2 separate regions of the Homo sapiens genome follow, and region 1 is linked to region 2. Evidence: fine-mapped expression QTL. A gene starts in region 2. The other region holds a variant in brackets. All regions are shown on one strand. Distances are between the middles of the regions.

Region 1 (5,383 bases), 120 kb after region 2:
AAAAGAGGGTGGGTGGGGGGCTTTGAGCACCCTCCCAGGCAGCAGTTAGTCCACTGGACTTTCCAGCGGGTGGCAGAAGAGAGGCTTGTGGTGAGACCACGTTTGATGTGGTCTGCCACATTATGTTCCATGTTTCCCCAGAAAAAGATCTACCTAAGAGTGAAAATTCTCACTGGAAAGTACTTGCGCTGTTCTTTTCTTTTTGGCTCCTGTAGAATCAACCACTGACCTACCAGAATCCACCATGGACCTGGAGTCACCCACAGATGTGTACCTGGAGAACACCCAGGCTTTCCGTGAGTGAGGGTCTGGCTTCGCAGGAGGCCTGGGCAGGGGATGGGCTCCCATCTTTTGCATTCCTGAGGGAAGGCCTGCTTTCCTCCAGCAGACTGGATTCCTACCATAGATTTTTCTTGAGAAGGATTCGAGGACAGACTCAAGAAGTGGACTCTGGTACTCTGCCCCCATTATATGCCTTTCTCACCTGGGCGTCATGTTTGCTAGCACATGAGGATAGGTCTAGTTCACCTGCTACACTTAGGAACTTCTAAGTGTGAGTGAAGGCCATGCCTTTAACCCAGTCCTTCTCATGGAATGCATTTGCATTCCATTTCCATAGTAGGATTTGAGTCCTGGTGGAGTACCTTGAAGATTAGGAGAAAGAGGGTTTTGGTGCCACAGACTCAGTGGAATCCTACATTTACTAACACTATTGGAGGCTCATAACAGAATGGTAGACATGTGGTGAATGAGTCTTACTGACCATGAATAAGAAACATTTCTTTACTTAATTGAAGACCAGCCCAGCACCTTCAGAGAAGACTCTTGGAGTTCACCTCAGTGAAGTTTTGTAAGATTCTCCTCTTTTACCTTTAATACTTTACTGATGATTTGATACCATTTTCAATGCTAGTTTAAATTCACTGGTAAAAATTCCAAACTTAAAACTTCCCAGATGCTGAGATCAACTACAAAATGTAACATGGAGGTTAAAGACAATCTCTTTCCTCCCTGGAGGAAAGAGAGCCCAGTTATTTGGATTTTCAGTAACTAAATAGGGATAAGATTAACAAGGACTCTTTCCTTCAAAAGAGTTTTGAAGGGAACATGGAGTAAAATGGATGCCTGGACAGTGTGTAAATATCTCACATTAGGGAGAAGACAAGGGAGGGAGGATAAAAAATTACACCCTAAAGAAATTAAGTTTCATGCCCAGGGAAAGGGTGAAAAGATGGGGCTGATCTTTTGAGCCCTGGTTCTCTTGTTTCTCTTGATAACTCCCGTTTTTTGTTTGTTTTTGTTTTCAAATTTAGAAAATGAAGCAAATTCTCCATTAGCTGTGATGATCACTGCTATCCACTACTTTCTAAGAAGATTCTATGCTTTTGAGCATGCCTACCACTACACTATAGGAGATCTATTGTAGAAGACTAGAAAAACATAGGATGTGCCCAGCTGAGGCATTGATCCTGGCTGGGTAGGGGGAATTGTTCAGGGATGGGGAAGGGGCACTTCTTAGCTGTGTCTCATCGAGTACGGGCTCAATAAATAATTGAATTTTGAGAGTGGTTCTTATTTTATGAGAGAAGAATTGCTTAATTGTATTAAGACCTATGATAAATTTATTTCTCTCTGATACTTTATAAACAGGCATCAATACTTTACAGGGGCCACAGGAAAACATGAAATGAGTTTGTGGGAAGTAAGTTAGTTTTTCTATTGCTGTGATAATAGATTACCACAAACTTAGTGGCTTAAATGAGCACGAATTTATTAACTTAGTTTTGTGGTTCACATGTCTGAAATGAGTCTCACAGGATTAGATCCTTGTATCAATGCTGAGCTGCATTCTAGAAGCTTTAGAGAAGAATTCCATTTTTTCATTCATATTCCTTGACCTCTTTCCAGCAATGGCCAGATGAGCCTCCCGTCACATCACATTGTCTGGTACTGACTCGTCTGCCTCCATCTTCCACATTTAAGGACCTTTTAATTAATTACATTGGGTCCATCTGGATAATCCAGGATAATTTCTCTATGTTAAAGTCAGTTGATTGGCAAATGTAATTCCTCTTCCCATATAATTCAACATATTCAGTGGTTCTGGGAATTAGTTGTGTGTCTTTGAGAGGCCATTATTCTTCATAGCACACACAAGGTAGACATCTTAATCCTCTAGAACTGGTTTGGTTCAAGTAGTGGGTAGACACAGCTTTTTTTTTTTTAGGTTTATACACTAGATTTTTGCAAAAGGGTATGAGTTGGTATCGCACATATTCATACTTTGCAGTACGTATATGCGAACATGTAAATGAAAAACTAAAATGGCAGAAATTTTGTTTGAATTTGCCTGCATTTATAAATTGGGAGTGATGAATTTTTAGAGTAGGATGTGGACTCGGGAGTGGGGAGGAATGCTTTCTAATTGTAGTCTCTCATTGTGGTCACTTATGAACTCCACCTTCCTCTTAGAAAATGAGGCAGTTATACCAATTCGATTTGAAAGTTTTTTTTTGTTCTTTAATATATATCCTCAAATAAATACACCGATGTTTGCAATCATTAACTTTCAGAGTTATTAATTTATTAGCTTGTCTCAGGTAGAAATATTCTATGTTCACTGGTGGTTTTTATATAATATGCAATAAGTCCTTCACTCTTATGATGAACTCGCACCAGAGCACATCAGATTTTGGGATTCTTTATCTTGGTTCCATCAAGCCCCTTGTCTCAGGCTTCTAAATAGAAAGTAGTTCCAAGCCCTCCCCGATCTCTTTTAAAACTAAAATACGATCTCTCTCCCACTAGTCACTAGTTTTTCTTTTCCTCTTCCCATTTTATTTTTAATTTTCAGAAGATTTCAGCATGGAGTTTTGTAATGGACCCTTAGGACAACTTACACATGTACCCAGGGAAGAAGGCTAGTGGACTCATCATAGGCACTCATTGGTATCTACTCAGGATAAAAAGATGTTTTATTTCAAGTTCTAACAGATCAATTAAAAGCAGCTGCCCAGGGAATAATGATTTGGGTGCCTAACCAGGAGAGTTGTGGCACTTGTGCCATGCAAGTAGCTGACCCTGGTATAAGTGATAGTTGAAA[C/T]CATGGGCTTAGATGAGGCCACTTAGGAATAGTGCAGGTATAAGGAGGGGCAAAACTCTGAGGCACTGGTGTGGGAAGTTGACACCTGGAGCAAGCAAGTGACAAGGAGTCCCACCCAGTGGCTGTCCTCACAATAGTAGCTCTCATTGAAGGCTACTCTGTGCCAGGCAGGGACAGAGCTGAGAGCTTTGCATGGGTTTTTATGATATGCAAATGTTTTACACAGTATTTGTATAAAATATTAATAATATTTAATATAAAATTTGTATAGTTTATATACCAATATAAATTATTGAGTAAATTTTGATAATGGTACAGGCTAGTCTGTTTCTGTAATCCCAAAACCTCTTAATTTTCAAGCATTTAGTTTACATCACTTACATTTAACATAATTATTAATATATTGAGTAATAAGTCTGTCATTTTACTCTAGGTTTTGTGCTTATCTTGTGTTTTTTCTCTGTTTTCTATGTGCTACCTTCCTGTGTGTTACTTGAATATTTTGTTTTGAATTCCATTTTGGCTTATATGTAGTATTTTTGAGTGCGTTTGTACAGTTATTTATTTTTTTACTGATACTGTAGGTTTCACATTACATATATATATGACATCTTTTATATAAGTTATGTATCTTATAACCATCATTTTAGCTTAAAGTCTAAGGCAGTGCTATCTAATATAAATTTCTGTGATGATACATGTGTTGTATATCTACTATTCCACAGATATGGCTGCTTTTAAATGTAAAATTTTATATTTTATTTATATTTTATATTTTTAACATTTTTAATTTTAATTAATTAAATGTAAGCAGCTACATGTGACTTGCAGCTACCATATCGGACAGTAGAGATAGAGACAAGTGGATGGAGATGAGACATATTTAGAAAATTAGAACAGGAGAGAGAAACTGGTGGTAGACTTTTTATGTGGAATGAGACACAGTCAAAGCTATAGATTTTATGTTGCATGAATGGTTGGACAATGTTCACTAGAGTTGGGATTACCAGATCTAGTTTTGTTTTGGAAATACTGAGTGGCAACTTTAAAATATTCAAATGGGGATGTCAAATAGATAAAGGCGTGAAGCTCAGAGTAGGAGTCTTGGCAAGAGATTTAACTTTGTGCCTTTGGTACATAGATAATAATTAAAGCTGTTGGCAAGGATGACTTTTTCTAGGGAGATGATATTATATATAGTGACAAGAGGCAAGAGACAAAAAATAGAGGAATTTCATAATTTCACAGCTAGATGGAAACAGATGCATCTGCAAAGGACACACAAGGTGTCAGCTCCTGAATGGTGGGGACCATGATTTTGTATTCATCATTGCATTCTAAACTCCTAGCAAAATTCCTGGCATACAGAAGGCACTCAATATATATTTGATAAATGAAAGAAGTAATGAGTGGAGCAACCAGAGAGTTCAACGTAAAACAAATGCATATAAGTATCATGGAATCAAAGGAAGAGAATATTTTAAGTAAGACAGATTACAAACGATGCCCATCACTGCTGAGAAAGTTAAGATGAAGACTGAAAAAGTCCATTGATTTTAGCAAGCTGGAGGTCACTGGTACCGTGATGTCAGCTGTTTAAGTGGAATGATGGAAACAGAAGACTTGTTTTATAAGCTTCTGTCAGACTTTTTGTTAGATTCCTTAGCATATTGGCAAATTGCTTTCCTAAATTATAACTGAGGGTGACATAGTTTCAGTAGTAAAGGCATTTCTTAACTCTTTCTTCTCAAAGACCATCCCCACACAATAATATCAGGAAACAAGAAAGCAAATTTCATCTTTGATAAATCTTATAGGGCAAATATAAGCAACAATATATGAAGACTAAGTACAGGCAGAGCCATAGTTCCTGGCATAGTGGAAAGGAAGAGGGTTGTATTCAAGCACCTGTGAAGTTCTTGTTATTGGAAAGTGGCACCAAATAAATGTATGTTAATTGGTCTCATAGCACCCTTGTAAGACTGCAGGGCTGCGGACAGCAGGACCTCTGAGGATTATGTTGTAGGAGGGAAGGTGATGGTGAGACAGGTGGCAGGAAACTGTTGGGGTTCACATCCCCCTTTGTTCCAGCAAGAGGGAGTAGGTTTATTTAGAAAAACTGAACCAGAGAGGCAATGGACTTGGGGACAACTTGGCGTTACTAAAGAGGGCATGAGTGAAATTCTACTCTGAAAACAAGCCAATCAAGTGAAAGCCCGTTAAATAAATGGAGGATATCCAACCTCATATCCTGGCCAGCTTCAAGGTCCTGGCAGTGAG
Region 2 (5,383 bases):
TGTCATTGCTCCTGGACTAGGAAATATAACACATTCATACATTTCTACTTCTCAATTTACCTGTCTATCCCTACCTATCTATCATCTGTCACATTCCTATCTTTAAAATCCATAACTTCGGACTAATGCCTTCAATTCCAATCCAGTATCACATTTTCCCCTTTGCATATTTGTAACTCCTTTCTTCAACAGTGAGAAATTGCATTCCCAGTCTCCTTGATACGTTGACTCATTCACTTGATCCTCCTGCATGTAAGCAATCTCCCAGCTGGGCCAGCCTTGTCCCCTTAGCCCCAGTGCCACCCATCACACCATTTGAGTGTTCCAACTCCAAAAGAAGGGAAGGCGAAATAGGAAATTATTTTTGCTCTTCTCTTCCCTATTCCTTATGTGTATATTATTATTTTCCCTTTTGGATATTGCTCACATCCATTTTCTCCTCTTCAGCTTTACTTCTGTGACTAGAATTCAGGCTTGAACAGGTGCTTCTGGTTTTGTTCCTGGTAATCTGTCCTGCACATAGCAGCCCAGATGATCTTTCACAACAAGAATATGACTATGTTATTTCTCTTTAAAGTCTCCAATGGCTCGTCATTTTCTACAAGGTTAAGTAAGCTCTCTAACTTACCCTGACCTGGCCTCTGTCCATACCTCCATTCTCATATTCATGCCTTCCTCCCTTGGACTATCAGTAGAAGTGAATTTTTGTAGTTGTCTGCATATACCATGTTCCATCACTACCATTTCAGTATGATGCTCCCTTGATTTATGAACCTCTTTCCCCAGTGCACCCTTAGAAATCCTGCTCAGGTGTCACTGTATCTAAGAAGCTTTTTTTGACACTTCTTTCCAACCATTAGTTGTTAATTATCCATACTAATTGGATTTCTTATACATAGTTTTATTATTGCCTATGTCACTCTCCACTATATTTGTTTACATGTCTGTCTTCTCTACTAGGTAACCAATTCAGAGGACAGGAATTGATTTTTGCCATTATAGTTTCAGTATCTAGCACAGTTTCTGCCATGTGTTATACACTTAATAAATACTTATTGAGGCTGGGCGCGGTGGCTCACGCCTGTAATCCCAGCACTTTGGGAGGCCGAGGTGGGTGGATCATGAGGTCAGGAGTTCGAGACCAGCCTGACGAACAATGGTGAAACCCTGTCTCTACTAAGAAAAATACAAAAATTAGCTGGGCATGGTGGCACTCACCTGTAATCCCAGCTGCTCAGGAGGCTGAAGCAGGAGAATCGCTTGAACCCGGGAGGCGGAGGTGCAGTGAGCCCAGGTGGAGTGATGATCGCGCCTCATCACTCCAGCCTGGGCGACAGAGCAAGACTCTGTCTGAAACAAAACAAAACAAAACACAACAAAAACTTATTGAACTGAAACATATATGTATGTGTCTGTGTGTATTTCTTTTTCTTTTCTTTTTGCCTTGGAAGAATGTGGAGAAACATCTGAAAAAGGAGCTGTTTTAAGATACCCAGTTTGTGATCATTTATTATGGCAGCCAAAGCAAATAAATACAGCATCAAGCTTATCAGAATCCACTTGCATCATGCTTGCTAATATCCCCATTGTCAAAGCTAGTCACAAGGCTAAGCCTGCTGTCACCATGAGAGGGGACTATACAAGGGCGTGCATTCTGAGAGGTGTGGTTCATTGGAGAAATCAAAGTAACAGTGTGCAGTGAGATTTATTAGATCATTTCATGTATCATAATAAAAGACATTGAATTTCTGATGAAGGATTTCGAATGTGGTAAAATAATTCAGTGGGAACCCAACGCAGTACCTTGAAAGAGAGTTACCTTGGGTCAAGTACAATAATTGGCACTCAGACCTGACACTTCCTTTTCAATAGACTAAATTCACCATGCAGCAATTATTGGAGCTAACAAAGTGTAATCTGTATTGGAAGAGAGTTATTGAAACCAGTATTTAAAAACATTATAGCAGAACTCTTCAAATAAATTCTTATATTAACACAGAAACAAGTATGGCAGAATACTCACGGTTATTTTATTTAAAGTTGGGTTTTTCGAGTACCCTCTATTTTCATGTATTTTGGGAAATTTTAGTAATGAAAGCAAATAGTGAAACAGAATTAAATATCCATTTTATAAAATACGACAAACAAGAGGAGAGCGGCTCTGAATTCCACCCCTGTGGAATTCAGGACTGCCATAGAGCGTATTTTCAAAACTGTTGATTTTGACAAGGCTGACTAGGAGATGCCCTAGAAGCCCCAGGTATGTGTTTCAGTATGATTCTGGCAACGCTGACTTAAAGCACTAAGTAGAATCAGTAGCCTACAGTGGATACTGCCCCATAAGGAGTGACGGGGGAAACGTTGCTGATTAAATAAATGGTCTTTTGAATTGGGCTGATGGTAGATGCTATAACTGAAGTTGCAAACCACACTGGGTTCGTTTGCTAGGGCTGCTGTAATAAATGACCACAAGCTGGGTATCTTAAAACAGCAGAAAGTTACTCTCTCACAGTTCCGGAGGCCAGAGGTCTGAGATCCGGGTGCTGGTGTGTCCGGAATCGGTGGGTTCTTGGTCTCACCGACTTCAAGAATGAAGCCGCGGACCCTCGCGTGAGTGTTACAGTTCTTAAAGGCGGCGTGTCCGGAGTTTGTTCCTTCTGATGTTCAGATGTGTTTGGAGTTTCTTCCTTCTGGTGGGTTCGTGGTCTCGCTGGCTTCAGGAGTGAAGCTGCAGACCTTCGCGGTGAGTGTTACAGCTCATAAAGGCAGTGTGAACCCAAAGAGTGAGCAGTAGCAAGAGTTATTGCAAAGAGCGAAAGGACAAAGCCTCCACAGTGTGGAAGGGGACCCGAGCGCGTTGCCACTGCTGGCTCGGGCAGCCTGCTTATATTCTCTTATCTGGCCCAACCCACATCCTGCTGATTGGTAGAGCCAATGGTCTGTTTTGACAGGGCGCTGATTGGTGCGTTTACAATCCCTGAGCTAGACACAAAGGTTCTCCACGTCCCCACCAAACTAGCTAGATACCGAGTGTCCACACAAAGGTTCTCCAAGTCCCCACCAGAGTAGCAAGATACAGAGTGTCCATTGGTGCATTCACAAACCCTGAGCTAGACACAGGGTGCTGATTGGTGTGTTTACAAACCTTGAGCTAGATACAGAGTGCCCATTGGTGTATTTACAATCCCTGAGCTACACATAAAGGTTCTCCACGTCCCCACCAGACTCAGGAGCCCAGCTGGCTTCACCCAGTGGATCCCCCACCGGGGCTGCAGGTGGAGCTGCCTGCCAGTGCGGTGCCGTGTGCCTGCACTCCTCAGCCCTTGGGTGGTCGATGGGACTGGGCTCCGCGGAGCAGGGGGTGGCGCTTGTCGGGGAGACTCCGGCTGCACAGGAGCCCACGGAGGTGGGGGAGGCTCAGGCATGGCGGGCTGCAGGTCCCGAGCCCTGCCCCGCGGGAAGGCAGCTAAAGCCTGGCGAGAAATTGAGCACAGCAGCTGCTGGCCCAGGTGATAAGCCCTTCACTGCTCGGGCTGGTGGGGCCGGCCTGCCGCTCCGAGTGCTGGGTCCGCCGAGCCCACGCCCACCCGGAACTCGCGCTGGCCCGGAAGCACCGCGCGCAGCCCCTGTTCCCGCCCGCGCCTCTCCCTCCACACCTCCCTGCAAGCTGAGGGAGCCGGCTCCGGCCTTGGCCAGCCCAGCAAGGGGCTCCCACAGTGCAGCGGTGGGCTAAAGGGCTCCTCAAGTGCCGCCAAAGTGGGAGCCCAGGCAGAGGAGGCGCCGAGAGCGAGCAGGGCTGTGAGGACTGCCAGCACGCTGTCACCTCTCACTGGCAGGGTTAGGTTTTTCTGGGGGCTGTGAGAGAGAAACCAGTCTGTGCGTCTCTTTGGCATTCCTGGGCATCCCTCCAGGCTCCGCCTGTGCTGTCACACTGAGTTCCCCCTGTGTGTCTGCTTTCTCCTCTTATAAGTGATATAGGAGTTAAGAAGAAATTATTTAGGCAGATAGTGAGGGTAAGGAAGTCCTCAGTAAGGTTTTCCTTTTAATGAAAAGCAGCCCTCAAATCGTTTTCTTTTCTTACAATGAGCAGCCTGTAAAATCAAGCTGCAGACATAGACAAGCAAGCTAGAAGCTTGCACGGGTGAATGCCAGCAGCTGTGCCAATAGGAAAAGGCCACCTGGGACTAGGCATGTCCAACTTCGTATACTTGGTCATCATTTCCTACATTCTCACACAGAAGAGAGCACTCAAAAAATAGTTTTGAGAATCATTTGCTAATGATTTAATACTATTATAAGGGAATAAAAGACTTTTCTTTTAAATGAGTGCTTAAAGGCGATTGGAAGCCCTGCTAAAGTTCAGGGGTGAATGCCTTATTATTTTTTTATATTTGGGGGCAAGGGCTTTCCAGTGAAGACTGGAAAACCTGCTAGACAGATTCTAAAAGAGCTGTAACACTGGGTGAATGCTGTAGAAGCACATAGTGTTAGTAAGGTGTGGGTCAGATACGGCTTTAGAGAATGTAGCAACTGAAAGCCCAGATGGGAAGCTCCGTAGGCAGCTGGATAAGCTAATATTTCTAAATAATATGTTCAGAGATTCGGACTGAATGCAATTGCAACCTTCTCCACCAGTCAGCAGTGAGTTCTGAAGTTACAGAAGTGTGATGAATTGCGGTCAATATGGGTTCTACCTTCACTTTGGAGTCAGTCAGTGACCTTAAAATACCTGCCCAGCTGAATTTTCTTAGAGTGCTTCATTTCCTGTGGGCCCTTTTACTCCAAATTCCAGATGATGGCTTTTAGTCTGTGGGGCCGCTTTAAGAGGCAGAAATCTGATCAGAACTACTAGAAGGCTGTGAAGGTGCTGCTGTGTGGACAGGCAGGGCAGAGTGCTCAAGGCTTTCCAATGCTCCTGCAATGGATCCTCCCTACCCAGCCCACAACCTGGCAGCTCAGGGGCCAACTGTTCTCTGTTGCTTTCTACTATCATGAACACAGGAAATGGGGGTGGGTAGCTTCTGGTTTCTGATTGAGGGAGTAGAAAGTGATGCTGCAGGGATCAAAAGCAGAGAAGCTTTTAAGCCATTTGAGAAACTGTGTCCGAAGGCAAGCGGATTTTAGCAGTAGCAGCAGCAGACCCCAGAAAAATTTGAAGAAGCATTAGTTTGTGCACTGTTAATGCCACTCTCTCATGAATGAAGAGAAGAAGGCAGGCCTAATGAAGGCTTTCCTAATGAAGGCTGAAGGCAGGCCGCTATTTGCCAAAGGTGCTGAGTGGCAGGGGGAGGAAGGGAAGGAAGCTGTGCAGTGTGTACTGCTTGCTTATCAGGAATCACGTCATTTCCTGTGTAAAGGGGCTGTGTGGTCTCCAGGGGCACTG

Evidence for each region. PIP is the estimated chance that this variant, and not a neighbour inherited with it, causes the effect.
Region 1: its variant is the best candidate, but not a certain one, in a credible set for the expression of LINC01252 in pancreas (GTEx, PIP 0.51).

What each region holds. Positions count from the first base shown.
Region 1 is chr12:11,426,395-11,431,777 of GRCh38, reverse strand. LOC440084 (a long non-coding RNA gene) reads left to right here. Exons shown (of 5, transcript NR_148969.1): 4 at 216-296; 5 at 1,314-1,568. Among named protein-coding and RNA genes, the nearest start is that of PRB2, 34 kb to the right of the region's middle. The variant C/T (reference allele first, on the strand shown) is at 3,104.
Region 2 is chr12:11,545,557-11,550,939 of GRCh38, reverse strand. It overlaps LINC01252 (long intergenic non-protein coding RNA 1252), which reads right to left and starts at 2,910. Exons shown (of 8, transcript NR_033890.1): 1 at 2,580-2,910; 2 at 1,219-1,350. All of the region lies in intron 2 of LOC124902877 (a long non-coding RNA gene), which reads left to right. It also overlaps the pseudogene RNU7-60P.